7 linked regions of the Homo sapiens genome follow. The protein of the gene in region 1 purifies or fractionates together with the protein of each later gene. This does not show direct contact. Each region holds a gene or a part of one and is shown in the gene's direction. Other genes may lie near its edges. The genes, in order: GRIPAP1, PKN3, LARP1, GLMN, VPS50, EIPR1 and BMAL1.

The links.
Region 2: the proteins of GRIPAP1 (region 1) and PKN3 purify together in Homo sapiens (affinity purification with mass spectrometry, with the first as the bait; one large-scale study listed by BioGRID). This does not show direct contact.
Region 3: the proteins of GRIPAP1 (region 1) and LARP1 fractionate together in Homo sapiens (co-fractionation; one large-scale study listed by BioGRID). This does not show direct contact.
Region 4: the proteins of GRIPAP1 (region 1) and GLMN fractionate together in Homo sapiens (co-fractionation; one large-scale study listed by BioGRID). This does not show direct contact.
Region 5: the proteins of GRIPAP1 (region 1) and VPS50 purify together in Homo sapiens (affinity purification with mass spectrometry, with the first as the bait; one large-scale study listed by BioGRID). This does not show direct contact.
Region 6: the proteins of GRIPAP1 (region 1) and EIPR1 purify together in Homo sapiens (affinity purification with mass spectrometry, with the first as the bait; one large-scale study listed by BioGRID). This does not show direct contact.
Region 7: the proteins of GRIPAP1 (region 1) and BMAL1 purify together in Homo sapiens (affinity purification with mass spectrometry, with the first as the bait; one large-scale study listed by BioGRID). This does not show direct contact.

The regions. Positions count from the first base shown.
Region 1 is NC_000023.11:48,978,265-48,981,764, reverse strand, and holds part of GRIPAP1 (GRIP1-associated protein 1), read left to right. Parts: intron 1-73; coding exon 74-169; intron 170-292; coding exon 293-349; intron 350-450; coding exon 451-550; intron 551-3,329; coding exon 3,330-3,460; intron 3,461-3,500. UniProt on the Homo sapiens protein: Regulates the endosomal recycling back to the neuronal plasma membrane, possibly by connecting early and late recycling endosomal domains and promoting segregation of recycling endosomes from early endosomal membranes.
Region 2 is NC_000009.12:128,712,503-128,716,002, forward strand, and holds part of PKN3 (serine/threonine-protein kinase N3), read left to right. Parts: intron 1-549; coding exon 550-696; intron 697-775; coding exon 776-885; intron 886-996; coding exon 997-1,140; intron 1,141-1,543; coding exon 1,544-1,619; intron 1,620-1,694; coding exon 1,695-1,863; intron 1,864-2,059; coding exon 2,060-2,162; intron 2,163-2,295; coding exon 2,296-2,363; intron 2,364-2,669; coding exon 2,670-2,733; intron 2,734-2,866; coding exon 2,867-2,958; intron 2,959-3,500.
Region 3 is NC_000005.10:154,803,877-154,807,376, forward strand, and holds part of LARP1 (la-related protein 1), read left to right. Parts: intron 1-324; coding exon 325-431; intron 432-2,004; coding exon 2,005-2,156; intron 2,157-3,500. UniProt on the Homo sapiens protein: RNA-binding protein that regulates the translation of specific target mRNA species downstream of the mTORC1 complex, in function of growth signals and nutrient availability.
Region 4 is NC_000001.11:92,267,988-92,271,487, reverse strand, and holds part of GLMN (glomulin), read left to right. Parts: coding exon 1-23; intron 24-1,711; coding exon 1,712-1,765; intron 1,766-3,352; coding exon 3,353-3,383; intron 3,384-3,485; coding exon 3,486-3,500.
Region 5 is NC_000007.14:93,305,366-93,308,865, forward strand, and holds part of VPS50 (syndetin), read left to right. Parts: intron 1-462; coding exon 463-639; intron 640-3,458; coding exon 3,459-3,500.
Region 6 is NC_000002.12:3,259,319-3,262,818, reverse strand, and holds part of EIPR1 (EARP and GARP complex-interacting protein 1), read left to right. Parts: intron 1-3,500. UniProt on the Homo sapiens protein: Acts as a component of endosomal retrieval machinery that is involved in protein transport from early endosomes to either recycling endosomes or the trans-Golgi network.
Region 7 is NC_000011.10:13,378,790-13,382,289, forward strand, and holds part of BMAL1 (basic helix-loop-helix ARNT-like protein 1), read left to right. Parts: intron 1-2,371; coding exon 2,372-2,465; intron 2,466-3,500. UniProt on the Homo sapiens protein: Transcriptional activator which forms a core component of the circadian clock.

The DNA.
Region 1 (3,500 bases):
CAGACAGTGACGGGCCCTCCTGGGAGGACAGAGGCTTCCCAAGCCAATGCCTAAGCTGCTTTCTGCTTTGCAGGGCAAGGAGGAGGAGCTACAGGATGTACGGGATCAGCTCGAGCAGGCCCAGGAGGAGCGGGACTGCCACCTGAAGACCATTAGCAGCCTGAAGCAGGTCAGTGGTCACTGCACAGCCCCAGACACACCCCTGATCCTCAGCGTACAGGAGGGGCAGGGAGGGAGCATGCTTCAGGCAGCCCTTCCGGCATCTACCAGCCATGCCTGCTTTCTCCCACAGGAGGTGAAGGACACAGTGGATGGGCAGAGGATCCTGGAGAAGAAGGGCAGTGCTGCGGTAAGACAGAGCGGTGCCCAAGCACGGCTCCCTCCTACCTGTAGCCTCCCTCCTATGGGCCCACTGGGCCTCAGTCCTCATGTTACCCCTGTCCCCCACAGCTCAAGGACCTCAAGCGGCAGCTGCATTTGGAGCGGAAACGGGCAGATAAGCTGCAGGAGCGACTGCAGGACATCCTCACTAACAGCAAGAGCCGCTCAGGTGAGGGACTAGGACAGGGAGAGGAGGCTGAGGCATGGGGGAGGTAGGGCCTGGGCCTGCAGGCTGCAGGTTAGTCCTGCATCTTCCTCAGCTGTGCTTTCCTGCTTCTGTCGCTCTGGAACTCCATCTTTTACCTTTTCTCTGTCTCTCCTCTGATTCTTTCTCTGCATTCTCTCTTTATTTCTATCTTTCTCTCGTTTTTGCCCTGTCTCTTCTCTGTTTCTGTCTCTGCCTCTGTCTCAGTTTGTTCTCTCTCTTTCCTCTATGTTTGCCTTTATCTCCTTGCTTTCTTTCTCTAGTTTTCTCCTTTTCTCTCTCTTTTTTTTTTTTTGAGACAGAGTTTCGCTCTTGTTGCCCAGGCTGGAGTGCAATGGTGTGATCTCGGCTCACCGCAACCTCTGCCTCCTGGATTCAAGCAATTCTCCTGCCTCAGCCTCCTGAGTAGCTGGGATTACAGGCATGCACCACCACGCCCAGCTAATTTTGTATTTTTAGTAGAGACGGGGTTTCTCCATGTTGGTCAGGCTGGTCCCGAACTCCCGACCTCAGGTGATCCGCCCGCCTCAGCCTCCCAAAGTGTTGGGATTATAGGCATGAGCCACTGGGCCCGGCCCCCGCCCTTTCTTTTCTCTGTCCCTTTATCTCTTCCCGCCACTCTGTGTCCTCTTCGTCTCTTCTGTTTATATCTCTGTCTGTCTCCTCACTGTATGTACTACATTACACACTCCCACACCTCACTTGGCATTTCTAAATCTATTGTATACAATCTCTCATTCTATAAATCTCCCTGCTCAAGTACAGGGTCCCTGATATAAAACTCCCTGAGTCTCTGCCCTCTAGAAGCCCCCAGTTGAGCTACGGAGACAGACTTATACATAGTCAGCAACGCTGTGGTGTTTTCATTATACAGCTAATCCAATCTGTTATTTCTGCCACTTCAAGCAGAAGACACACACACACACACACACACACACACACACACACACACAACTTTAGTTGCTTCAGCCTTTTTTAAGACGGGGATGGCCTATAAATACATTTAAGTAAGTAAAATGCAGTGATGGCTCTGGTGCATCTCTTAGATTACAGACTCAGAGAAAACTTGGTCCCTTATTCCCCCACTCGGGATACCTACGGATCCCCACTCAGTCACCCCACCCTTGCCAGAGATCCTCGAGGGCTTTAAGTGATGTGGCAAAACAGATGTGTATCTCTCACCAAATCAATTTCTCTCTGAGGCACTCGGTCTCCTGAAGTAACCTTTCTTTAAAAAGGAGTTTTGTTTCTGTTTTATCACAGATGAATGTAAGAATCTTGGGAAAGGTGTAATCCCAGCACTTTGGGAGGCCAAGGTGGGTGGATCACCTGAGGTCAGGGGTTCAAGACCAGCCTGGCCAACACGGTGAAACCCCGTCTCAACTGAAAATACAAAAAATTAGCTGGGTGTGGTGGCGGGCGCCTGTAATCCCAGCTACTTCGGGAGGCTGAGTCAGGAGAATTGCCTGAACCCAGGAGGCAGGGGTTGCAGTGAGCCGAGATTGCGCCATTGTACTCCAGCCTGGGCGACAAGACTGAAACTCTGTCTAAAAAATAATAATAATAATAATCTTGGGAAACGTTACAATCGTATACCATACATTCAATACATTCACCTTGTCCATTAGATTAAACTGAGATTTAGGTGCGTGGGTACGAGAGCCTGCTTGCATTTCTTTTTTTTTTTTTTTTTTTTTTTTGTTAGACGGAGTCTCGCTCTGTCGCCCAGGCTGGAGTGCAGTGGCGCGATCTCGGCTCACTGCAACCTCCGCCTCCCGGGTTCACACCATTCTCCTGCCTCAGCCTCCCAAGTAGCTGGGACTACAGGCACCCGCCACCACGCCCACCTAATTTTTTGTATTTTTAGTAGAGACGGGGTTTCACCGTTTTAGCCAGGATGGTCTCGATCTCCTGACCTCGTGATCTGCCCGCCTCGGCCTCCCAAAGTGCTGGGATTACAGGCGTGAGCCACCGCGCCCGGCATCTTTTTTTCTCTCTGTCTCTGCTCTGGCTCACTTCTTTCACCAGGGTCTCAGTTTCTATCATCTGCTCTGGCTTTCCATCTCTGGCATTTTCTTTCTGCAAGTGGATGTGCCCTGTGCCCTCTCTAGCTGTCTTCCTTTCTCTGAACCCTGTGTCCAAGTGTGTCTGCCACTTGAGACCCATGTGTACCCATGTCGTTCTCTTTCTCCAACCTCTTCCATTTTCTCCCTCTCATTTTGTATGTGTTTCTCCAGAAAGGCAGCTCTTTCTTTTCTTTCTGTTTTTTTTTTTTTTTTTTTTGAGACAAGAGTCTCACTCTGTCACCCAGGCTGGAGTGCAATGGTGCGATTTCGGCTCACTGTAACCTCCGCCTCCTTGGGTTCAAGCGATTCTCCTGCCTCAGCCTCCTGAATCGCTGGAATTACAGGCACACACAACCACACCTGGCTAATTTTTGTATTTTTAGTAGAGACGGGGTTTCTTCATGTTGGCCAGGCTGTTCTCGAACTCCTGACATCAAGTGATCAGCCCACCTCAGCCTCCCAAAGTGCTGGGATTACAGGTGTGAGCCAGTGCGCCCAGCCTCAGCTCTTTTTTCTGTCTCTGTCTCTCCCTGTCCTCCTGTCTGCTTCTGCCTTTCCCCATGCCCAGGTGTCTCTCTTTCCATCTCTGTTAAATCTATTTCTGCCTCTTCCTGCTGGTTGCTGCCCTGGGACTCAGGGGTATTGGGGCTCAAGTTTCTCTTCCCTCCACCACCCAGGCCTTGAGGAGCTGGTTCTCTCAGAGATGAACTCACCAAGCCGGACCCAGACAGGGGACAGCAGTAGCATCTCCTCCTTCAGCTACCGGGAGATCTTGCGGGAAAAGGAGAGCTCGGCTGTTCCAGCCAGGGTAAGGGGAAAGGAAGAACCTACAGCTCCAGCTTCTCTCA
Region 2 (3,500 bases), on another chromosome or scaffold:
GGAGCAGGTGGGTCCGGACAGGAAGCCAGGCTTCCTGCTCCCTGTCCCAAGCTCTTATCCTTGCCACAGTGCTCTCTAGGCCCCACTTCTAGGCAGCATCTCGTCATGTGCTGTGGCTCTGTGCAGCCTGGCTAAGGTCTGAGGTCTGAGCCTATGTCCCTGCCGCTCCAGCATGTGGAGGGGAGAGCCAGTTGCTCTGCCCTGGAAAGAGGTGGCTGCCACAGAGAAGTGTGCATTCTGGGACAACGTGGCTCCTCACCTGGGAGTGTCCAGGTCGGAGGCCTCCTAGGGTGTCATCGGGGTCCAAGGGTACCCTTTGGGGGGCTCATGGTGCTTGGGAGCTGCAGGACAGTCAGCAGGCTCCAGTCTAGGCACTCTAGGCCGCCACACTGAGTGAGGTTCCTCAGGTAACTGCCCTGGCCTCAGGTGGGTACGGTCTGGGTTCAGCCACCTCCTGGAGAGGGTGGCCTTCCTGGGGTCCCAGGACACCTTGGTGGTAGCAGTGGGAAGATGGCATCTGACAACGCCCCCCGCTCACTCTCCCCACAGGGACACTGCAGGTCCGCCTCCTGGGCTGTGAACAGTTGCTGACAGCCGTGCCTGGGCGCTCCCCAGCGGCCGCACTGGCCAGCAGCCCCTCCGAGGGCTGGCTTCGGACCAAGGCCAAGCACCAGCGTGGCCGAGGCGAGCTTGCCAGTGAGTAGGGAAGGAGCTTCAGGGGGAGCAGGAGACCCCTGCTTCAGGCCTGCCCTGAGTCCCGGCTCTGGCCCTGCAGGCGAGGTGCTGGCTGTGCTAAAGGTGGACAACCGTGTTGTGGGGCAGACGGGCTGGGGGCAGGTGGCCGAACAGTCCTGGGACCAGACCTTTGTCATCCCACTGGAGCGAGTAAGGCTGGCCTTTGTGTGGTCAGGGGTGACCTTGGGCTGCGGGGTGGAAGGCTGCCCAGGTCGGGGCTCGTTCTGCACCCCACCCTTCAGCCTGGCCTCCCCAATACAGGCCCGTGAGCTGGAGATTGGGGTACACTGGCGGGACTGGCGGCAGCTATGTGGCGTGGCCTTCCTGAGACTTGAGGACTTCCTGGACAATGCCTGTCACCAACTGTCCCTCAGCCTGGTACCGCAGGGACTGCTTTTTGCCCAGGTGCTCACCACCTCCGCCCTCTGACTTGGTGGGACCCTGGGGCGTCAGGGCCAGGAAGGCCTTCAAGACCGATGCACTGCGTGTAGGTGCAGAGACTGACGACCAGAGAGGAGGGCTCCAGGAATAAGGGCTCCTAGCCGCTCTCTCAGGGCTGCATCTGGAGGCCTGGGTCCTTGTCCTGACTGCCCTGCCTCAGGTGTGACCCTGGAAAAGTGCCTCTCCTCCCTGGGCCTCTGTTTCTCCACTAGTATCAATGAGGACATTGAATCTGTTTCTCTGGGTCTTTCTGGCTCTTGCATCTGTTGACCCTGGGGGCTTGGGCTGTAATCCCAGGGGCAGAGGAGGTGCCATGGCAGATGAGATGGGAGGCGACTGGTCCACAACCCTGCCCCTACCCCTGCAGGTGACCTTCTGCGATCCTGTCATTGAGAGGCGGCCCCGGCTGCAGAGGCAGGAACGCATCTTCTCTAAACGCAGAGGTGTGGAGGGAATGGGGGCTATGTGTGAGGGAGCAGGGCTGGGGTCCCGGGACTAAGCTCCCCCTTTTCTCCCAGGCCAGGACTTCCTGAGGGCTTCGCAGATGAACCTCGGCATGGCGGCCTGGGGGCGCCTCGTCATGAACCTGCTGCCCCCCTGCAGCTCCCCGAGCACAATCAGCCCCCCTAAAGGATGCCCTCGGACCCCAACAACACTGCGAGAGGCCTCTGACCCTGCCACTCCCAGGTGAGGAGCTCCCTTGCCCTAGACTGCATGCTCCTCTGTGGCGGCTTCCTGACTCCAGATCCAGGCGGTATCTGTCTGTCTGTCTGCATTGCTCAGCCCGCTAACCCTCTGTCCATCTCACTTTGGGTTGGTGTGTCCATCCTGCCAGCTCTTGCGTCTGCCTGTGCTGGGCACTGTGTCTACTTTCTCCCTACAGTAATTTCCTGCCCAAGAAGACCCCCTTGGGTGAAGAGATGACACCCCCACCCAAGCCCCCACGCCTCTACCTCCCCCAGGAGCCAACATCCGAGGAGACTCCGGTGAGGGGCTGGAGGGACTAGTGGCTCCTAGGGCCGGCTGGGGCTGGCAGGGCCACCCAGCTGTGGGGTGGCAGGCCTGAAGGGAAAGAGAGAAGGAAGCCCAGCCCTGCCCTGAGCTCCTCTATACTCACAGCGCACCAAACGTCCCCATATGGAGCCTAGGACTCGACGTGGGCCATCTCCACCAGCCTCCCCCACCAGGTACCCCATCCTGCGCACCTTCATGTTTGAGACGTTCGTCTGCTTGCTTGAACATTTGTGTATCCATTCATACATTACTCCCTGGCTCCCTGGCGGGTGCGCTGACTGGCTCTCGGGGTCTGATTTACTAAACCCACATTATTGAGCTCCAGCTCTATGCCGGCTTCTAGGAGTCCTTACTGCAGGGCTTTTTCGAGCCCATAGGTCGGGACAGCCCAGGACTGGGCATGGGAGGCTTGGAGTGGCTCTGGGTAGGGGCCCAGCCAGTGCCCTAGGGGACTTCATATACCCTCTCTTCCTTTGCAGGAAACCCCCTCGGCTTCAGGACTTCCGCTGCTTAGCTGTGCTGGGCCGGGGACACTTTGGGAAGGTAGTGGGCTGAAGAGGGTGGTATGGGACGGGATTGGGGGCCTCATCACATGAGCCGGGAGGACCTGATCTGTGGGGGCGGTAAAGGCTCCCTGGTCTGGCCCACCTGGAGCACAACCTCTCTCTGGCCCCAGGTCCTCCTGGTCCAGTTCAAGGGGACAGGGAAATACTACGCCATCAAAGCACTGAAGAAGCAGGAGGTGCTCAGCCGGGACGAGATAGAGAGGTGTGTGGGGGTGCCGCAGGGCACCCAGGATGGCTGGCCTGGGCTGTGGCATCCAGAGGGCAGTTGAAGGTTCCTGGGGCTTTGGAGAGGTGACCCCGTGGGGCCAGCCAGCCTGCATTCTCTTTTGGCACCTGCAGTTGTTAACTGTGTTTCCTTGGGCAGGTCCCCTCTTCTCTCTGTCAGTTTGCTCTACTGTAAAATGGGGGCATTGGTGGCTGTGCACGTTCAGAGCTCCTTGTGAGCCCCTGACATATAGAAACCATCACTCTATGGCCAGGCGTGGTAACTCATGCATGTAACCCCAGCACTTTGGGAGGCCAAGGCAGGCGGATCACTTGAGTCCAGGAGTTCAAGACCAATCTGAATCACATGGTGAAACCCCATCTATAAAAAATAGCCAGACATGGTGGCATGTGCCTTTAGTCCCAGCTACTTGGGAGGGTGAGGTGAGAGGATTGCTTAAGCCCAGGAGGTAGAGGTTATAGTTAGCAGAGATCTCCAGCCTGGGCAACAGAATGAGACCTCATCTAAAAAAACTAATT
Region 3 (3,500 bases), on another chromosome or scaffold:
GGTGGGCTTACCTAGGATTAGGTAGCCACATCTGCAAAATATACTGGGTGTGGGAGTGGTAACCCCATGTTGAAAGGCCTAAGGAGGATTGACCAGGTATGAGTCCTTGGGCAAATCACTGCATTCCCAAACCTTGATTTCTTCACCTGTTTGAAATAGGCATACCAGTTCCTAGCTCACCACTGTGAACTTTATACGAGAATGAATATGAAAATGCTGTTGTAAAATGTGAGAGATCATGCCCATCTTAGTCCTACAAGTGCTTGATGCTCCTCAGAGTTGTAGGAGTACAAACAGTAACAAACCCTGGGCTAACCTTTGCAGATGCCTCGAAAAAGAAAGACAAGACACAGTTCAAACCCACCCTTGGAGAGCCATGTGGGCTGGGTGATGGATTCCCGTGAGCACAGGCCCCGTACTGCTTCCATCAGGTACCTGGGGCAGTGGGGGAAGAGTGATCAGGCTGCCTATGGGATGGGTGGGCGAGCCATGAAATTGACTGGACCAAGAAGATTGGTCTGAAAATTAAAGGGACCCTCATCTAAGAGGTTTTCAAAAAACCAGTGGTGTGGAAAGCTCAGCCCAGGACCTGGGAATGACGGGTAGGCTTTTTTCCTAAAGAAGTGGTGTGGCAGTCACGTGAGACCAGATTTTCATACATGCAGAGAGAAAATCTCTGAATTGGTTTCCAAGCCTGGCTATCTACTTTCTGTCTGAGGAAGAATAGCCAGGTAGTTGAATAAACAGATTTCTGGCAGTCTCTCTGAGCCTACTATGTCTTGGGAGGCTACTTGAAAAGTTTTAAAAATTAAAAAAATACATATTTATTGGCCCCAACCTGTATCTGCTGACCCTGCTTCTTGGGGTAGGGCCCACACTCTTTTTTATTTATTTCAGTAAGATGGCCCCAGTGTGTGTTTCCTGTTTCCCAAAGCAAGCTTTGAGAGCCACCTACCTATGACCAATGCTCTCTACTCCCTGCAGAGATGGCACAGACTGCAAATAGGCATGCTTTTGAAGAAAATATACAATTGATCTTTGAACAACGAAGGGCGTGGGGTGCCCAGCTGCACACAGTTGAAAATCCGTGTATAACTTTTGACTCTCCAAAAGCCTACTGTTAACCAGAAGCCTTACCAATAACATATAGTCAATTAGCACATGTTTTGCATATTATATGTATTACATACTGTATTCTTACAATAAGCTAAATAAAAAATATTACTAAGAAAATCACAAAGAAGGGAACAACAAACACTGGGGCCTACTTGGTGGGGAGAGGGAGGAGAGTGAGGTACAGTTTACCTACTTAACAAACCTGTACACATACCTCTGAACCTAAAATAAAAGTTAAAATCATAAGAGAAAATATTTACTGTTCAGTAAGTGGAAGTAGAATCATCATAAAGGTCTTCATCGTCGTGGTCTTCATGTTTAGCAGGCTGAGAAGGAGGGGTTGGTCTTGCTCTCTCGAGTGGCAAAGGGGAATCATCATAAAGGTCCTCATCCTCATGGTCTTCACATTGAGCAGGCTGAGAAGGAGGGGTTGGTCTTGCTGTCTCAAGAGTGGCAAAGGTGGAAGAAATCTGCGTATAAGTGGACCCACGCGTGGATCCATGCATTTCAAACCCATGTTGTTCAAGGGTTCACTGTAGATGGATTGACCCATGATGGCTCATTAAAAGGTTAAATGCTTAAAGTTAATAAATGGTTAAAAGCTCAAGTTTTATCATTGGACACGTTTCTGCCATTAAATAGTCTTATGACCCTGGATGAGTCTCCTAATCTCTGTAAGCCTCAGTATCCTCTGTAAAACTCTCTGAGAGTTGATGCAGAGTTAATCAGACCCATGGATATAAGTTAAAGGTCCGTAACTGGGCCTCCTTGTTTGATACCCTGTGAGAGGATGGATCTTGGCTGACAGAACGGATCAGAGGGACCCCTCCTGACATGGTGGGGCTGCTGTGGGGAACCTGGTGACAGTATTTTTTGTGGTTTCTGTAGCTCCAGCCCCTCAGAAGGGACGCCTACAGTTGGCAGCTATGGCTGTACCCCTCAGTCATTGCCCAAGTTCCAGCATCCTTCCCATGAACTGCTCAAGGAAAATGGCTTCACACAACACGTCTACCATAAGTATCGTAGGCGCTGCCTTAATGGTAAGAAGTGTGGGGGGCAGGAGATGAGCCTCTGGGCCCGTTATTTAGACCCAGAGTATAAGAGTTGGGGGATACGGGGATAGGTGACTCTTTTCTCTGACTTCAGAGCAAAAAAAAGACATGACATTATAGCAAGAAAGACTGAAGTTAGACTCGGGCCAGGTAGTTTTAAACTGTAGGAAGCTAGGGGGATATGGCACTCACAACGTTCGTGTTCTTTGATCTTCCTCTATTGATTATTAAAGCTGTCAATTAAGTATTTCCATATCTCTGGCAAGATTACTGACTCAGCCATTGTCAGGTCTAGTCCACTGTCCATCACAAAAGGGTATGTAAGAGGTGACATATGCTCTCTAGAACAAAGGTTGCCAAACTGGCCTGTGAGTCAAATCCAGCCAGTATTCTGTTTTCGTATGGCTTTGGAGCTAAGGACAGTTTTTACATTTTTAAGGGGTTGTAAGAAAAAAAGATTTGTGACAGAGACTATATGTCTTCTGTAAAGCCTGAAATATTTGTTCTCTGTCCCTTTACAAAAGTAGTTTGCTGATCCCCTCTCTAGATGATAGTGTAAGGAACGAGCCTGTCTAGATGCTCTTGTCTGTCCCTGCTCTTTTAGTATTCTGATAGGTTGGCTGTAAAGACGCGCAAAACCAATCTAGTCACCTGTAGTTATTAACTCATTCATCCTCTTTCATTCAACAAAACGTGGTTGCTAAATTCTTGATTCATCCACTTCACTTCTCTCTTTCTTACTCTATGTGTAATAACAGCTTTATTGGGATATAATCTACATATGATGGAACATACCTAAAGAATACAATGTAATAGCTCTAAGTGTACTCATATAGTTGTGTGCCCATCACCAGAATCAATTTTAGAACATTTTCATTACCCCCAAAATGCTATGCCCCTTACCAGTCATACTCATTATACATGCAAACTACTCCCCACCCCCAGAATCCTCCCAGCCCTATGAAACTACTAACCTACTTTCTGCCTCTAAGGATTTTGCCTATTCTGGACATTTCACATAAATTATACTGTATGTGGTCCTTTGTTACTGGCCTCTTCCCCTTAGTATATTTGGTATACTAACAAATACACAGCAAGGTTCATGTCATAGCATGCATCAGTACTTTATTCTTTTTATTGCCAAATCATATTCCATCGTATGGATGTATCACATTTTGTGTATCCATTCATCAGTTGATTGGCATTTGGGTTGTTTCTACTTTTTGTCTATTGTGAATGATGCTACTGGGCATATTCACATACAGGTTTCCTGTAGACGTAGTTTCTCCTTTATTTTGGTTAGAAGAGTAGTATTGCTGGGTCATGGGGTAA
Region 4 (3,500 bases), on another chromosome or scaffold:
GATCAGCTTCCAATGGTCTTAAGGTAAGAGTTAGTGTTTGGTTTATTCATGTATTCTAAAAGGAATTTCATAAAATTCTCATTTATCTAATGTCCAATATATGCATATTAACACACTAATACATTTTAAATAAATAGTAAAGGCTATTTTTAATAAGAATGATCCCAGCTATAATCTGTTAAAGATAGCAGTAGACAAGTAATGAAAGTGGGGAGTGTTGAAATAGGTGTAAGGGAATGGTGGGGACAAGAATCAGAAGATGATAAACAGGGCTTGGTTTTGAAGCTTTTGAGACCACCCTGGAACTAGCCAGGTACCCAGGGGTATCATCATCTTTTCACTGGATTACTGCTGTAATCCTGAGTGGATTTATATATCTACTTTTACTTCCTTTTAATTTAACACATTCTCAACATACCAGAAAGCGAAGCCTTAAAAGAAGTCCCTTACTGAAAACCCTCCAGTGGCTTTTTATTGCTTTAAGAATAAAGTCTTAATGCCTTTGCATAACTTCTGAGACAAACTTGTGCCTGGTCTGGTCCCTGCTTAATTGACCTGATTCATCTCCTACCACCTTTCCTCTTGTTTACTATGCTCCAGTGACACAGACCTTCTTTTGTTTCTAGTTTAAATGTTATGAATTTTCCTATTTGGCCTTTGTATATGCTTAAAATTCTCTTTATCCTTAAATGTCACTTTCTGAAGAAAGCCTTCACTCACCACCCAATTTAGGTTGAATCCTTCTATTATAATTACCTTGACCTTGTCTTCTTTTCCCACAATGTTTATTAAAATTATTTTTAAAATATATAATTTTATAATGTAATATCTTCTGGACTTTGAGTTCTATGATAATAAGGATTGTGTATTTGTCTTATAGGCATTGGGTATTTGTGTGAGTTTGTGCATTTATATATGAATATAGCTAGGAGTACATTCGTATGTAAATGTTGAAATACTGGCTATCATTTGCATGTTCACCATGTATGAAACATTATGCTAATAACTTTATATGCATTATCTCATCCTTATAATAAGCCTGTGAAATAGAGCATTCTCTCATTTTACAGATGAAAATAACAGGCTTAGACAAGTTAATATACCACTGAAGATCTAACTACTTTGTGGCATAGGTGGGATGCAGATAGCTCTGTCTGACCCCAGAGCCTATACTCTTAAGCATCACATTCTATCACCAAAATAACTTATACAGCATATGTATATTAACTTGCTAGGGCTCCTGTAAAAAAGTGCTACCAACTGGATGGTTGAAATAACAGAAATAGTTTGTCTCATAGTTCTGGATGCTCCTTCTGAGGGTTGTGAAGGAGAATCTTCTCCATGCCTCTCTCCTGGCTTCTGGTGATTTGCTCACAATCTTTGATGGTCTTTGGCTTGTAGATGCATTATCCTGTTCTCTGCCTTCATGTTCGTATGCTGTTCTCCCTGTGTGCTTGTGTCTGTCTCCAAACTTTCCTTTTACATAAGGACAACAGTCATATTGGATTAGGGCCCACCCTAATAATCTCATTTTAAATTGATTACCTCCATAACCCTATCTCCAAATAAGGTCAAATTCTGAGGTACTAGAGGTTAGGACTCCAACATATCTTTTTTGGGGGAGATACAATTCAACCCATAACAATATGTATGTGTGTACATATCTCTGTGTGTGTGTATAATATATATATTTGTTTTGTTTCTATTTTAGCCCATTGTACCTTTTGCAGTTTAATATGGGGCACATTGAAGTCTTTTTGCAAAGGTAAGATCGTTTAGATGGTATCTCAAAATGAAATAGTAGTGTTAAAATAGTCCTTGTTAAGATCAGCGGAGACTGCCTTTTCTTTGCTAAGCTCTAATTAATTAATTGGTTATTTTATAAAACAGCGAGGCAAATAATTCACGAGAGAGACAGAAATGAGTCAAGGAGGTTTTACACCAAAGTCTGTTTTATTTTAAACTTAAGACAGTATTAAGATTTTGTCTTAAGGGCTTTTACAGTCATCTGTTTCTAAGGTTTCTTCTCTTACTCCAAAAGTTGGTAAATTAAAACACCTCTACCCCACTGCATCCTCCTCCATCTTAAGGAAGGGCAGTCAATAAAAGAAGTTCTTCCGTATTTTTCCTTCATGGACACAGTCTGTGAATTGCATCAAAAGGAAGGAGGTGTCTTGACTTCCACCTTTTATAATTTAGATTATTGACAGTGATGTCATTCAATTACAACTTTTCTCATTTGAGGTGCTAAGCAGCAGGACTTTCTATTTAAAAAAAAAAAAAAAAAGCCAGGCACGGTGGCTCACGCCTATAATCCCAGCACTTTGGGAGACCAAGGCGAGAGGATTGCTTGACCCCAGGAGTTCGAAACCAGTCTCTCTCTCTACAAAAAATAGAAAAAATTAGCCAGGAGTGGTGGCGCCTGCCCGTTGTCCCAGCTACTTGGGAGGTTGAGGTGAAAGAATCACCTGTGCCTGGGAGGTCTGGGCTGCAGTGAGCAGAGATCATGCCACTGCAGTCCAGCCTGGGCAACAGAGTAAGACCCTGTCGCAAAAGAAAAAAAAAAAAAAAAGGAAATTACAGAGTAACAGGTATACATAATTTCTAGACAGAAATTAAAGAATTTCACAGAACTATATGCTTTGTTTTCTTTCACTATAACATGTAACATGTTTAAATTATCCCCTGAGATCAGTTAGGGCTTTGCAATTATCCTCTATGAACACTAGTGACAGTTTATCAGTCCCATCTCTTACCAGGTGAAGGAAGATTTGTAACATGGCAATGTCCAAAGCTTCAGCATACAAGGCAGGAATTTCCAAGGGTCTCCTGGCACAAGTAGTTACTAATTCTGTAAATTTGCTGTATTATGTATGTTTTAATGATTTTATATTCATTACATTTAGTTTCTGTTATTCATACAGTGATAATATGTATTGTTTTGAATCTAAGTCCTAAATTCTTGAGATTTCCAAACTGCAGAGTCATTGAGTCTTTTTTTGAATAAAAAGAATTGGAAAGATTTTACAGAATAATCAACTGGAATATATAGCATTGGTTATATCAGGTTTAGTTAGTTTCTTAGCACTTGCTGTTGAAGATCTATTGTTTTGAAGTTAGGAAATAATCCCTGAGTAGATTTATTTTGGTCAGATTTAGTGGCCTTAGCCAAACCGAAAGACAGATCAAAGATGGATTAAAACTTTTGATCAAGTTCTTCAACAGAATTTCTCCTTAATGATATGCATTTTAAAAGTGTTAAAATTTCAGTTTTTGCTGTATTTTTCATAAGATGAAGTATCATTCTAAAATAGTTTACAAATTCATGATAAATTTTAATATTATTTTTCAGAACAGAAGAGTCTGTTATCTCCAAAGGATTGGTAAGATGTTTGTTCCCATTATAACTTAAATACATAGTTATGTCAACAAATAACAGCTGTTGACTTCACTATATATGTATCTGCATATATTTTAATCTGTAGGAGCTGCTGGAGAAT
Region 5 (3,500 bases), on another chromosome or scaffold:
AACACAGATATGTACTTCATACTTTATTTCTGATGTATTTGTACAGAATATCTTAAGTGGTGCAAGCATATGAAAAAGAGAAGTGTTTAACAATTAGTTTTCATAAATGACTTTATTGATTAGGATTTTTGCTGTTCTGTTAAAATTTTTAGAAGACATCATTCAGATTTCTTAAGCTATTTTAAAAAATGATCTCTGCAGTTTCTTAAAGGAAGCCAAAAGTAGCTTGATGCAGATGATACTGTTTTAAGTGATACCATTCACTGAGTTGTCTTTAGGAAAACCTTTAGATGTGTATTTCCAAGTTTGTGCTTTTAGATAACTTGAAAGATTTAAAAGTCAATAAACTGAAGATCAAGATGTTGTTTTTCTACTAACTCTACATGTATATTGAGGGATTCGGTTTATGTACTAGAATTTTATTGTTGCTAAAGGGTATCTGGCTCCTTTTTTAACATCTAGGAATTTAAATTCATGGAACAGTCTCGCTCCCCATCAGTTTCACCTAGTAAACAGCCAGTCTCAACTTCTTCAAAAACAGTGACCTTGTTTGAGCAGTACTGTAGTGGTGGGAATCCATTTGAAATTCAGGCCAACCACAAAGATGAAGAAACAGAAGATGTCTTAGCTTCTAATGGGGTATGTGGTGTATGTGAAACATAAGTGAGTTTTTTTTATTTAAAACTGTTCTACTCAATGAACAAGGCAATTCACTACATTTACGTATCCATTTACTACCACCCTGCCTGCCTGTATACTTAATGTACCTATGCTATTACATTTATAGATGATGACTTTACAATATGCTTTGTTGACCTTGTCCTCTTGAATAGTAAATTTTCCCTTTATGTTTGCTTTATGTTCTTATTACATGATGTTCTTATCAGGTTGCTAATCAAGTAGTAGTGTAATTTCTTCACTGAATATTTACGTGATATATTATGTGAATATTATGTGATATATTGTGAGATGACGGAATAGATATCATCTACCCTTTTTCTCGACACCCTTTATGGGTCACTGATTCATTTTGTTCCATGTCCCTTTATCTAAGAGAAAGTGGTAATGTCTTGCATAGTTGCCTGGCAGGGATATTTTTTGAGATTTAGAAGTACAATGTTTTAACAACACTTTGAGGACCTCAAAAACAATATTAACTAGACGTAGTGTGAGTTAGTGGAAAGGATTTGAAGGCAAATAATGAATATCATCTTTATTATTTATCAGCTGTGTGGCCCTTGGCAAATTATTTTAACTTTGTGACCCTCAGTTTCTCCATATTTACAGGGAGAGGAATGCTTGCTTCACAGTTCCTGCATGGTGTTTTCACAGTATTTTACTTGACTTAATATTTTGTTTGATGGTTTCTTCTGATCTTCATAATTTCCATAATGACCCAATATGATTTTTATTTTTGATTTGATGAAGCTAAAGTGAAAACCATTCAGATGTGACAAAATATGTTGAAGGATTTGTCTTTATATTTTATGTTAGTTTTAGAATTTATTTTTCATTTGGTGAAGACAAAATTCATTAAGTTTAAATTGTTTCATAGTAAGCCATATTTAAAATTATGATTCAGTGATTCTTTGTGACATTTTGCCTCTGTGAAGTTGGCTTAACCGAGAGGAATTTAAAGTCATTCCAATTATTTTGGAATAATATATCTCTCTATAAAAGTGATTCATTAATTAAAACTTAGATAGCATTTGATTCTCATTATTTGCAGCAGTGTGTTCTATAAAGTTGCTGTGAATACTAAATTAGCAAATACTGAACCATTACTCCCAGAGCAAATATAGGATTAGGTTCCTGTGAGCCTCGGGTTACGACATGTTTATCAGCCCATCAGTACATAATCTGAATTCATAGCCAACAACGCTGTAACTCTTGCCTAAATGAAGCTTATCAGACACACATATTTTGTTTCTCAGGCACATCACAGCCTTCTTGTACTTAGAAACACTAGACAGCACTTCAACGCAACACTTGCAGTGGCATTCTAAACAGTTAAATCACCAACAAAAAGCACAAAAATACAAAGCACTTGGCACTAAATAGGTCAAGAAAAGGAAACTTGTTTATAGTATGAGAGCCTAAGCAAGAAGGCAGAGCATGCCTTGTTTGTATTCAGCTGGGAACATGCATGTTGGATGACTCAAAGTTTTCACTGTTCTGCACGTTTATGACTGACTCCAAAAATATCAGAAGTATTGACTTTAGGGTTACAAATAAATTTCAGTGAGTAGGCAAATTTGCAAACATTGAATCCTCAAATAATGAGTATCTATGATACGGTGTGGTCACAAACCTCTGTTGTTGTAATCAGGACATCCTAGTTTATGTAGAATACCTTTCTGCATAGCATCAGGATCACATTGTGTATAAGTATAAAGGAGTACCTGTAAGGCTTGTTTGCAGTTATTAATGTGTGATCTGATCTTTCCAGGTGCAACTTATGTCCTTGAGAATCAGGGTCCACATTTAAATACGACCTTTCATAGTGCTTTTTATTAACAGACTCTCAAAAAATAGTTGTTGAATTAGGGGGCTAAATTCTTTCCATGTTGTTATCATACTGGTTTCCTCAACTGTCATGTGGAGATAAAACTTCCTCATAGAAGTGTCTGTATGATTAAATGAGATAATTCATGAAAGCACTTAGCATAATACTTGGTTAAAAACTCAGTGTTAGCTATTACTTAATGATATTAATGTTAGCCATTTAATCGTATTAATCTATGACATTAATAGATGATGATGATGATGATGATGATGATGATGATGATGAAAGTGCTGTCACTGCTTCCTTTACTGTGTGCATGAATTCCACTGTCTTTCCCATGCTGGCATTGGGCCATGGTGCCATAAAGATGATGAAAATGTTAGGAAGACACCCTTTGTCTCAAGAGTAAATCCACCATTTTTGTCCTCATTCTCAGCAGGTCCCTGTGTTCTAAGCTTAATTTTCTAAGCTGCCCTCGGAATTAAATTTTATAGTGAATTAGAACATCAGCATGTGTGTTGCATGTGTTTATTAAGCTGAAGTAATACTTCCAGAATGCCAGAATTGGATACTGAACCTCTTTTTAATGAGTTTTATTAGCAAATTGGAAATAAGTATGGTGAAACTTCTGAGAGACTTTAAGAAAAAAAAATGCGAATGTATACTCTTTAGGCCTAGTGGAATGTTTGTTAGGTTTTGGTTTATGGCGATTTGATTTTGTTGCACATTTTCAAGCTTTTATAGGTGTAATATTTTTCTTTTGTGCTGATTGAGGTAGAATGATGAAGACAATGGAAGAATAATTAGATTCTTGGTGACAACATTAAAGCTAAATTAAGAATTTTCTTGTATTTAGCTGTTTCTTATAAAACTGAGTACTTTCACTGTGTTGAGACACCCCACGAAAAGAGGCCCTTTATACTCATTTTTTAATAACCTGTGTTTTCTTCAGTATGAATCTGATGAACAAGAAAAGAGTGCCTATCAAGAGTAT
Region 6 (3,500 bases), on another chromosome or scaffold:
GGCACTTGGTGCCCCATGGCCAGGAGCTCCATTATCAGGACCCAGAGGCATGGTCAGAGCTGTTTATCAAAAGACATGGTTCTGTGCTGCAGATGGCATGGCTTGCTCCAGAACCCCGGGACCACGTGGTGACTCCAACCGGGCTCTCCACAAAGTCCACACTGCATGCTTTCTACCACTGACAACTTCCACACCAGCAGGTCTACTAGGCGTCCCCAGAAGCAGGGCTGCCTCTCCCCAGCCTGATCTTGCTGTAGTGCCCTCTTGGCCTAAGCTGGCAGCCTTACGTGCTACCCCAGCATCTGGGCTGGTCCAGCCTTCCTAGGTGTATAATGTGTCACCTCTAGAATGAAGAGGGCTGGCAGGCATTACAGCGTCTTTTCTGCTTTTGCTCTGGAGGGGAAGTCCTGGTGTCCTCAGCAGAAGTAGCAGGTCCTGGAATTGCCATAGCTTGTGTTTCCTGCCGTCTTGCCAAGGTCTTCTGCACGCTCCTCCTACGTTGTCACTGTAATGTCATGAATGCAGTGGGTCCATGTGATGTTCTGTGGGCTGCCCAGGTCTGTTTGGACTATATTATGATAGAAAATGGGAGACCAGCACAGCTCTGTGGCAAGAGTGTATACTGTTTTCCTTTGCTTGTGAATGCGGATGGTTTCTCATCTTCTTTCTTCATTGGGATAGGACAGCGTGCATTTGACGGTCTGTGTACACACATCATGTGCCTGAGGGCCTGGGAATCTGCTCTAACAAGACTCCACAGCTGGCACTGTGGATCTGAGTGGGCTCCTGCTTTGTTGAGCTTAGAGTCATCCACAGGCATTCTCCAGGGCCCATTAGCTTTCTGCAGAAGCCAATGGTGAATTCAGCAAAGCCACACCCACTTCATATCCTTGATTCTTAAAGTAAGCGCAGGTCTCTACCACTCTTTGATGGGTTGGGACGGGGAGGCAGTTTCAGAGGCTTCTATGTGACCTTCCCATTAACTCCACAGGTCACAGGCCCGGTATGGGTATTTCACAAACTGCCCAGGATGTCAATCCCATTTGACCTTAACAGACCTTGGAGTTGCCCACCAGGTGCGCCCACAGACTCAGAGGATCTGCGGTAAGCCAGGCCCTGCCTAGGACTTTACTTATCACCTGGCATCCCCATGCCCCACTCGGGCCGGAGGACAGTGGGACACTGGGTTGCTGGACCCCTGTGCGTGTCTTTGTGTTCAGCAGACCTGGAAATGTGTGGGGATTACCCTTTGCCCAGGGAATGGCATTCAGGAAAATGGCCGTGGGTCCCTTTGGGTACAGACTAGGGTAATCATTGCAGTGTACACCTGCCCTAGGGTTGCAGGTTCCTAACCCGTGGGGAATCTGACCATCTTTACCGTCAGTGGGTTCCAGCTCTGAAGCTGCCTCAAATCTGGATCTGGGTAAGGGATTGTGACTGTGAGTGGGGTGACTTCCCTCAGCCTTCTGCTCATTCATTCTTGTTTTCTTTTTAATATGTATGTACGTTATGTACGTTTGCACTCATGTGTGCATGTGTCAGGCAGGCAGTACTCTCCTTGAATGCCTTGTCTGTTTCACCCCTAGGAATACCAACTCTATTAACTGTCTCCACAGCCCTCTGCCAGTTGAGCTTCCTTGGCCGGCACTCTGGTCTCGTTGGTCATTATGATAATTGCCACCCCCTGACTTCTGGCAGTTACATACCGTCACCCGACCACATTTACTTGGGGCTGGGTTTAACTGCCCAAGTCAGAAAGCTGGACAAAGCTTATTATCAACAAGCCAAGCTTTGTGACAGCTTCTTCTAAGAGTGGAATTATTGGGTCATCTGGTAAGTGAATGTTCAACTGCAAAAGTGTTTTCCAAAATGTGTGTACTGTTTTACACTCTTTTTTCACAATCCGTGAGAGATCCAGTTACTGTACATCTTTGCCAATACTTGCTATTGTTGGTCTTTTTTAAATGAAAATTTCACCACTCTAGTAAGATGTGTGGTGAGTCTCACATGGTTTCACTTTGCCTCCTTCCAATTATTAATAATGTTGAGCATCTTTTCTGGTGCTTGTTGACCATTCATATGTTTTCTTTTGTGAAGTGTCTGATTTGGCGTAAGGTACATTTAAAAAAATTGGGTTGTTTCATTATTAAGCTGTGGGAGGTCTTTATATTTATTCTGGATACAGGCCTTTTGTCAGATATATGTATTATAAATATCTCCCCCAGTCTGTCTTTTCTTTTCTTTTGTTTTCTTTCTTTCCTTTCTTTCCTTCCCTCCTTCCCTCCCTCCCTCCCTCCCTCCCTCCCTCCCTTCCTTCCTTCATTTTTTGAGATGGAGTCTCGCTGTGTTGCCCAGGTTGTAGTGCAGTGGCACAATCTTAGCTCACTGCAACCTCCACCCCCCAGATTCAAGCAATTCTCTTGCCTCAGCCTCCCAAGTAGCTGGGATTATAGGCGCCCACCACCATGCCCAGCTAATTTTTATATGTTTAGTAGAGACGGGGTTTCACCATGTTGGCCAGGCTGCTCTCAAACTCCTGACCTCATGATCCGCCTGCCTTGGCCTCCCAAAGTGCTGGGATTACAGGCGTGAGCCACCATGCCCGGCCACTGCTTCATTTCTTTAATAGTGTCTTTCTGAAAGCAGAGTTTTTCATTTTGATTTTAAAGAAGTTTTAAATTTTAATGAAGTCCAATTAATAGGGTCTTTTGGTGAATAGAAGTTCTTAATTTTAATAGATTCTATGTTATTCGTCTTTTTCTGTATGATCCAGCTTTTTTTCCTGCCATTTAAGGAATCTTTGCTTGTCCCAAGGCTGAGAAGATATTCTACTATGTATTCTTGAAAAGATTTGTATTATTTTATCTTTACGTCTTTATCATCAGTCTAGCTGGAATTGGTTTTTGAGTATGTTATGAGGTAGGATACAAGTTTATTTTCTTTCATATGGATATACAATTGATCCAGCATCATTTATTGAAAAGACCATCCTTTCTCCACTCTTGAGTGTTATTTTTGTAGTAAAACAAGTGACCATCTTTCTAAGGGTCTGTTTCTTTCCAGCTTCCAAAACTTCATTGCTCTTCTATCCTTGTGGGTTTATGTTTTTAAAAGAAAATAGAAAGAAAAACCCCTCTTTGTTACAACATTAGAAGGGTTTCAGAATGGAGTAAAAGTTGAAGTGAGTGTAGATTCTCTTATCTATATTTTCTTGGAGGTTCCTCCATTGCCTTCTCTACTCTGTGAAGTTGATGGACTGTGGGGAGAGAGGTGAATAGCGCTACATGAACCGGATACGTGGAAACTTCATTGTCCAGCTGGTCACTTAAACATTGTATCTGGTGTAGACTTTGAAGGGAGGTAGCTTACCTGAGAGTGGAAAATCTTACTTCACCTGTACCACTTTTGCTTTATTGAGGGCAACGTGGATATAGTTAAGGAGTTTGGTGAGCTGGCGTTTACAGGAAAGTCACTTTCTTTACACCTGAACAGAATTCTCC
Region 7 (3,500 bases), on another chromosome or scaffold:
GGAGCTTCTCAGTGCGGATAGATGTACCTTTACTTTACAGGAATGCAGGAGTAGAGCTGTGAACTATCAGAGTGATCTGGACCTTAACAAAACATTCACTTTTTTTCAATCAAAGAGCTGCCCAGGATTAGTACTAGAAACCAAGCAGATCAGCTAGTTATTACTAGCTGTCTTGGGAGAGACTTCCTTTCCATATGAAAGAGAAGGAGCTTAGAAGCAGTCCACCTGGGTCTGAGTCCTGGGCCTGTCTCTCTACCTGGCTATGCTGAGACTTACTTAACCTCTTGCTCTCTGTTGATTTAAACCATAAAAAGAAAGCACTATTTCCCAAGAATTGTGTTAGGATTGTGAGGGCACTCAGGAAAGTTCCAGGAACACAGCCTGACATATAGTGAGTGCTTAAAAATTAATTAAATCTGTCTTTAAGAGCAGTCGAGAGGGAAGCAGTTATCATAAGTCTGTCCAAATTTGGGGAATAGAGAAGGTGGTAACCAGATTCTTCAGAACGAAACTTAATGTAACATAAGAAAAGGAAGAAAACACTGCTGCCGCTGGATTCTCTCAGGAGAATTAGAGGCTGGCCTGTTTTCCAATTGGCCATAAAGGGGCTGTTATCCCCCTATAGGTAACACAGCTCTTTTCCAACCCCACAGGATTAGTGGGTGTGACTTCTGCATCAGGAAGGAGACATGAGGGTAGTGTGCAGTGTAATCAGGTTCAAACCCTATACTTTGCATTTGCATACCCTGTATTTTGCTTGAGACCATCCAAGAACAGTATCAAACAGTCCTTGACCTCAAGAATTTTAAAATCTTTTATAAGTCTATTTTCTTTATGATAACAGGAAAAAGGGAGGGTGCATGGGCCAAAGCAAGCAAAAGAGGAAAGATTTGAACTTGGCCTTAGCCAGGGTTTGCAATAAGAGTGGATGTTCCCTCTAGAAAAGCCAGGGCTATTCTTGAGTGGGCATGTGAGTGGCAAATTCAGGGTCAAGAAACAAGCTACCTAACTGGGCAGGCTTTGTGTAGGAAGGAGACACAGAGCTATGATAGGCGATTAAGAAACACAAGAAATGATACTGTGCAGTTTGGAAGAAACCTGTAAGACCCCATTTGTTGTAGGATGCTGAACAAGCATCCAAAGTCTTGTGTTACGCTTTGTGGAAGTTGCATTGGAATAGGGAGAGATGAAGGTGGGCATGTTTGACAACTCAGGAATGAGGCCTTATCCTACAGAGATGACACTGCCAAAAGAGAAATCAATCATCTAAGGTCTAGCGTTTGAAGATGAAATCAGGAATGATGAAACAGCAATTCCAAGATGAGAAACCTGGGAAAATAGTGGTTTCATAGACATAAGTAGAGAAAGGTGGGGGACACTCAGCAATTTTTCCGTAAGCAATTAGCAGCCGTTTGTGCATGCTGAGAATACATGATATGTAGTTGTAAACTGCCGTTAAGAAGCTTCTAATCCAGAAAGAAAACTTGTTCACTCATAAATCTAGAGAACTAGGCAGTACAAGAACCAAAAGACTTCTGGGTGGTGGAGGAGTGGTCTCTGGGTCACCCAAAAGCTACATTCATCCATGTAGGAGCTGAGAGTCCTGTGGTTACACAACTGCCATCACACTCTCCCTAAACTGTAGCTGCAATGCCAAGTGATGGATTCTTTCCTGAGGTCCTTCAGCCTGACAAGTATTTAGGTGGATTTACAGTTCTAAGTCTTCCCTTCTATAAATCTTCTGAGAGATATGCTAGATAAGAAAGGCCTGGACCCATTTTTCATCAACCACTGCCTTCGAAGGCTGCTTTTCCTGTCACTACTACTAGGCTACCTTTTAGACCCTGGTGCCGTCCATGTCCTAAGAGTATTCACTAGCTAAACAGTGTTTGTGGAGAAGGGGACAAATTGTTTTCTGTGGATCAAAGATGGAGGTTGATCTTAGAAGTTCTCCTCCAATTCACCTGGATTCTGTGAGGAAATAAAACTGGCCACTTACTTGAAATTCACCAACTGAATGCAAACTCCAATCCAAGGGCTTTGTCAGTGAGATGCTTGACTCTAGGGACTGCATTCTAGATCAGGTGCCTGTAGAACAAATCCAGCTTGTCATCTGTTTTTGTAAATAAAGTTTTATTGGAACACAGCCACACCGATTCGTATCTGTGGCTGCTTTCAAGCTGCAGAGGCAGAGTTGAGCATTTGTGACAAGACACCATATGGCCTAGAGAGCCTACTATCTGGCCCCTTACAGAAAAAGCTTGCCAAACCCTAATCTAGATCTTCATCCCCTTTCTCACCTTTACCCCTTAACAAAGCACATACACTCCACTGAAAAAAGAAAAGGCAGTGTAATTCTCTTTTCTGACAGGATAAGAGGGTCATCGCCTTCTAGCTGTGGCTCCAGCCCATTGAACATCACGAGTACGCCTCCCCCTGATGCCTCTTCTCCAGGAGGCAAGAAGGTAAGACTGATGATTCTTAGCCTAAGCTAGAGAACCTCTTGCCCAAGATCTGAAATGTTGGGGGTGGGAGTATGGAATTGCAACTGCGATTGCTGAAACAATTTGGACTACTTCCTCCTTGAAGTAAATGCATCTGTGTGAGGCTGGATACAAAGCATACTGGTAGGGCTAGGGAGGCTTGCTGACATCCTCAGAGGCTTTCTTCCATGTGAGTGGAAGAAGGGAGAAAGAATAAGGAATGGGGAACTGTCAGTTCATTTAATTGAGGGAGCAATTCAAGAGTTCCCATGAGGGAAAGATTATTGAGTACCTCACATAGAAAAGTTTCTCATTTTCTGCCAGGAATTTTCAAGGGAGAAAATATTAGTGTCTAGGGCAGGCAATGGAAACAGCAATGCCACCAGCAGTGCTTTGGAAATCAAGCCATGCTTTATAGCTGCAGAATACTTGGGGATCTGCTGCCTGGGGGTTCCATTGGTGTGACAGCATTGGATCCAAGCAGTGGATCAATCACCAGCCCTCATGAAGAGCTTGCTATAAGACTACACTATAAATAGGTTTAGGAACCAGTCATTTGTTTTCATCTTTGCTGGAGAACTTATAAGCCTAGGCCCATCTTAATCGTAAATTATAAATCTGTTTATATTGCCTGATGCCAGTAGAGCTTAGGACAGTTTAAAGGCCATCATTTTGGACACAATGGCTTCCTTTCCCCATCTCCTAAAACAGAGAGAGAGAATATCAGGAATTTCCATAGGCAGGACTCCTAGGGCACAAACCATCAAAAGCAGGGCAAGGATTTTCAAAACTGAGCTCCTCGGAGGTTTGTTCAGGTTACCAAGAGCTGTGGTGTTACCAGGTGGGATGGGCGTGGGGATAGTTGCTAAGGAGAGAGGGTAAGAGTAGAAATCCTGCTTCTACAAGGGCAGCAATACTTCTTTTTTATACAGGAATCTTCTGCAAACATTTCTATTTGAAAAAGCGTTTTGCTCCCCCCAAAAAAGGTTGAAAGTTAACAAATTAATGGGTAAGACT